2 separate regions of the Homo sapiens genome follow, and region 2 is linked to region 1. A link means that fine-mapping ties the variant in region 1 to the expression of a gene that starts in the linked region. Tissue or cell type: prefrontal cortex. Region 1 holds a variant in brackets; the other region holds the start of a gene. All regions are shown on one strand. Distances are from middle to middle.

Region 1 (2,685 bases):
CGCCTCTCCCTTCCTGGAGCTTCCATATTGGTGAAGGAGATGGAAAGTAAAATGAAAAGCAAATATAAAATTACATATTTTACTATGTGCAATGAAAAAATATAAAGCGTGTGGTGACAGAGAATGGCAGGGAATGGATACTTAGTGTCATCAAGCAAGGATTTCAGAAGAATGCATCAACTTGGGGCTTGTGAGAATTAAAGACAGTTTTCGAAGCACTGAAGTGAATGAATTAATTTGGGCATAGGGGACTGGGACAGCTAGAGGGGTCTCAGAATCACACTCTGTGATGTGAGCAGGAGAAAATCCACCAGAAGCATGATGATGACTCCCAGGCTCTAGTTGGATCTTCTGGAATTTGAACAGAAACCTCAACAATTTTCTTTTGAAACTCTAAGATGCTCCATGTGAGGAGGACTTTTGGGCAGGTTCTTATCAAACATTATTTCAAGTACCATCATAAAATAAAGGAAACTGTGGCCTCCGTGGAGGCAATAAAGCGTCAATATTTCAGCAGTTATTCACACGCTTGTTTACACTGAAACCTGCTCCATCGACAGGTGGTAGAATCATTGTCAGGCTGGGCTCACAGACGTTGGTGTTACCAGGCGTAGGTTATCAACGCCCATGCCCAGAGGCCCTGGAAAACGGTGACCGAGGATGAATTAAAGGAAATTACACCAACAGGGCAACATGCCTGACATATTTCCAGAAACAGAAACAAAAGGATCTGCATAGCTAGGCCAGACCACAACACCATCTTGTAGAAGCACATCAGCCTCAAACCACTGCAGAAATGGACTTTGTACACCACACTTAGAAGAAGATATTCTTAAGGACTGTGTTTCAGTGTTAAACTTTACAGGCTAGGGAGATTTTTAAAAAAAATCATAATTCTTTGATTGTCTTTTTTTCAGCACAATGGTTTAAAATGATCCAGCTGGTTAGAAAAATGTCAGCATTGTCCTCACATGAAACATTGATCCACATGGGCACTGACACATTTCAGCTTCAATATTTGACATCAGATCAATCTTGCCTTCTCCTGCATTAGCAGCCCAATATTCAGGCCT[G/T]CAGACTGGAGGCTGCTGCACCTGGCTTTTTGCCATACGGGCTGACCCTCCCTAATTCAAAAACCTGGAATCCCAAATGCCCTGACATCTACAATGTTTAGAGCACTAACCTCATGCCACAAGTGAAACATTCCACACCTGACCTCATGTATTAATCTGTTTCCATGCTGCTGATAAAAACATACCCAAAACTGGGAAGAAACAGAGGTTTAGTTGGACTTACAGTTCCACATGGCCGGGGAGGCCTCAGAATCATGGCGGGAGGCAAAAGGCACTTCTTACATGGTGGCAGCAAGAGGAAAATGAGGAAGAAGCAAAAGCAGAAACCCCTGATAAAGCCATCAAATCTCATGAGACTTATTCACTATTAGGAGAACAGCACAGGAAAGACCGGCCCCCGTGATTCAATCACCTCCCCCTTGGTCCCTCCCACAACATGTGGGAATTCTGGGAGATACAATTCAAGTTGAGATTTGGGTGGGGACACAGCCAAACCATATCACCTCATGTGACAGGTTGCAGTCACAATGTAACCAAAATTTCATTACATTTACAAACTATTAAAAATATTGTATAAAATTACCTCAGGCTATGTGTATATAAAGCATGAATTTATTTTGTGTTTCAACTTGGGTAGCATCTCCAAGATGTCTCATTATGTATACGCAAATATTCCAAAATACGAAACAATAAAACACTCAAAACACTTCTGGTACCAGGCATTTCGAATAAGAGAGACTCCACTTGTACCAGCTCCGTATCCCACGGCTTTTGCAAAATCTCTATGACCTGGTGCTAAGGGACCTTTTGGGTTTAAAGCACTGCTTGTGTTGCTGATTCTGAAAGGGTTAAAGGGAGAGTAATCATTGATGGTGTCCCACAGCCATGCCCGCAGCCTGTCAAGCACAGGGAGGTTGAGAGAGAGAGCGGATTGGTCCAGGCGCAGCCACCCCTTCACTACCAAGCGTGCACTCATCCCAAGAGCCGCCACCCCGCACCCGCCAGGAACTGATCAGGAAGGAACAAGAAGGACATGGTTCTGTCCTCAGGGAACTTGGGGATAAATAACATATGCAATTAAGATGTAAGACAAAATATATTCGTATAAAGTGCAAAAACACAGGCACATCACTCTCTGCCTTCAGAAGTGAGGGTGCCAGAGCTTGGTGCCTGGGAGTGGCCCGCAGAGGGTTCAGGGCTGCTGTGTGTTCAGGTTGTTCATCTGGCTCTGCTGATGAGGCTGAGTGCAGGCTGTGAAAATTCATCAAGCTGATACTTTAAGTGTACTTTCTGTATGTATGTTCTATTTCCATAAAAAGGGAGAAGTGAAAAAAATTAATGAGAAAGAAGGCTTGAGTTACAAAATCAGAAATTTCATCAGCTAGTCTACCTCTCTGCCGCCTTCTTCTCTGCCTGGGGTCTCTGCCAGAGTGGGCAGCACAGGAAGCTGCTGGACTCTAGGTGCCTTGCCGCCCTCAGAAACTCCACATTTCACAAAATGGTCAGATGCCAATGCAAATTAATGACGTAAGTTTATGTTGCTAAAATGATGACCCCAGGCAAAATAAACTCTTGCTTAATCCATGCTTTTTCTGGCAGCTTCACTTACCAA
Region 2 (2,685 bases), 200 kb before region 1:
AGAGGTCTGCGTGTCAACCCGGGCGCGAGCCTGCACTGCGGAGCATCCCCCACTGAACGTGCACCGGGCACCAGCTCCTGAGACGCGGCCGTGAGATCTGCAGCACCTGTCTCCACTTCGAAAGACCCCTGCAGGGTAGTGAACAGTTATTTTATTTATTTATTTTTTGAGCCAGAGTCTTGCTCTGTCGCCCAGGCTGGAGTGCAGTGATGCAATCTCAGCTCACTGCGACCTCCGCCTCCCAGGTTCAAGTGATTCTCCTGCCTCAGCCCCCAGAGTAGCTGGGATGACAGGTGCCCACCACCACGCCCAGCTAATTTTTGTATTTTTAGTACAGAAGGGTTTTTACCATGTTGGCCAAGCTGGTCTCGAACTCCTGACCTCAGGTAATGCGCCCGCCTCGGCCTCCCAAAGTTCTGGGATTATAGGCATGAGCCACCGTGCCCGGCCATGAACAGTTATTTTAAACTTCTGGATTCATACTTCACAAATGTGTTCACTTGGCAAAGGGGTATCCCTTGGTAATAAGTACCAAGGAAAATCCCTTTGAATGGCATCCTGGGCTCGACATTTTAGGCATTTTAGAGGGGATTTTGGAAATTCAGTATCTGTCATATTTCCTTGATTTAATGACTGGAAGGAAATTAGAAGCTTTTTATTCTCATAAACTCCACTGGTTTCCAGTGAGCAACACATCTTCTCCGTATGTGCTCAGAACTTGCCAAATCCATTCTGAAATCTTGTCTTGGATCCACAGCAAGTTTATCCACCCTGTCATGCTGAGCAGCTCCTTCTACATTTTGAAAACCAAGTGGGTGTCATAGGCCAATGATTTACAGCCTCCGTCTGGTCTCTATGAACCCACAGAAGCTGGGATCAGCCTCTGCCTGCATATTCTCCATGGGCCGCGCACTGCACGCTCCTCAGCTAGACCAGGAGACCAGGCTTGAGGTGGAACACTCAGAAACTTCCACAACCAATTCTTCCTTGTGGGACTTGACTCCATCTTAGGAAGGTTCATATTATCTTTTTCATGCTCCAGATTAAAAAAAAAAAAAGCTGCAGCGTAGTGAGACTTTCTGAAGTGCCAGGTGCTTCACTGATATCTCCCTTTGTCTTTATAGCAACCCAGAGAGGTGGTGCTATTGTGAAGATTAAATAAGAAAATACACCAAATGGTTTCAAAAGTACTTGGTACACAGGAAGCACTCAATAAATGTTCTCTTATATCAATGTTTGGAGCACTGAACTACATAAGTAGATGCTTAAAATGAGAATTATTCTTTGACACATCTAACAGCTGGAGAACCTCTCGGCATGGCCAGGGAAGAGAAGCTTCGCAGGAACACTGGCTTCGTGGGCCTCGGGCAGGTGGAATTCGGAGAAACTGGCCAAAGTGCAACCATCAAAATCAAACCTCACAGAAGCGAGGGTCACCCACTCAATCATCCACCTTGGCATCCTCGTGTTGCAAAATCAAACCCTGAGACTTTACATTAAATTTCATGGGATCTCAGGTCTCATACCTTCGACCAAGAAAGCACGAGAGCCTCTGGGTCTTGTTAATGGGCAGTGAGAGACGTGGGTGGAAGGTGCTGGTGAGGAAGGGGCAGGGGCAGGGGCAGGGGCAGTCTCCACCGGCATCTCCAGTTACAGCAAAATCCTTGCTTTTCCCGCGCAAGTCCCCATCTCTGCAGATTCCCCCGCCCCCCATCTCTGCAGATTCCCCCGCCCCCCATCTCTGCAGATTCCCCCGACCCCCCATCTCTGCAGATTCCCCCGCCCCCCATCTCTGCAGATTCCCCCGCCCCCCATCTCTGCAGATTCCCCCGCCCCCCATCTCTGCAGATTCCCCCGCCCCCATCTCTGCAGATTCCCCCGCCCCCATCTCTGCAGATTCCCCCGCCCCCACCTCTGCAGATTCCCCCGACCCCCCATCTCTGCAGATTCCCCCGCCCCCCATCTCTGCAGATTCCCCCGACCCCCCATCTCTGCAGATTCCCCCGCCCCCCATCTCTGCAGATTCCCCCGCCCCCATCTCTGCAGATTCCCCCGCCCCCATCTCTGCAGATTCCCCCGCCCCCAACTGCCCGCTACAGCTCTTTCCTTGTGCCTCACAGCAGCCGGTCCCACTTCCTGCATCGCCACCAATGTGGCCCAGGCCACCAGCCCCCGTGACACTGCAGCCATCCCCTTTGCTCCCCGTCGTGGCCTCCCGACCGAGCAGCCAGAGTGACCCCGAAAGCCTAAATCAGCCTGCGGCGCCCTCACCCGTCCTCCAGCTGCCATCGCCTCCTGGGTGAAGAGGACGCAGGTCGCAGCCCCCGCAGCTCTGCCCCTCTGCCCTCCGGCCAGGCCGCCCCGCTGTCCCCCTTGCTGTCCACCTCTCTGTCCACCCCTGCTGTCCCCCCCCGCTGTCCCCCCCGCTGTCACACCCCCGCTGTCCCCCCCCCGCTGTCCCCCCTGTTGTCCCCCCGCTGTCCCTCCCGCTGTCCCTCCGGCGAGGAGGCTTCTGCACGTTCTGCGTGGGCCTCTCCCCGGGGCCGCCCCAGGTCTCCCCTGACGCCCACACCCACCACCAGGCTGTTGTGCGGGACCTTCCTTCTCTGCCTCTCCAGCTGGTGACGCGCACTGACGTCCTGCAAGGCCCGCTCCAGGTGCGCCACCTTTGACTGGCATGCTGAA

Evidence for each region. PIP is the estimated chance that this variant, and not a neighbour inherited with it, causes the effect.
Region 2: KIF25 starts here. The variant in region 1 is fine-mapped to the expression of KIF25 in prefrontal cortex (CommonMind, PIP 0.95).

What each region holds. Positions count from the first base shown.
Region 1 is chr6:167,791,587-167,794,271 of GRCh38, reverse strand. All of the region lies in intron 1 of LINC01558 (long intergenic non-protein coding RNA 1558), which reads left to right. Among named protein-coding and RNA genes, the nearest start is that of LINC01558, 3.9 kb to the left of the region's middle. The variant G/T (reference allele first, on the strand shown) is at 1,074.
Region 2 is chr6:167,996,535-167,999,219 of GRCh38, reverse strand. It overlaps KIF25 (kinesin family member 25), which reads right to left and starts at 1,549. Exons shown (of 13, transcript NM_030615.4): 1 at 350-1,549; 2 at 1-128. KIF25-AS1 (KIF25 antisense RNA 1) reads left to right here and starts at 2,143. Exons shown (of 4, transcript NR_103750.1): 1 at 2,143-2,314; 2 at 2,619-2,685.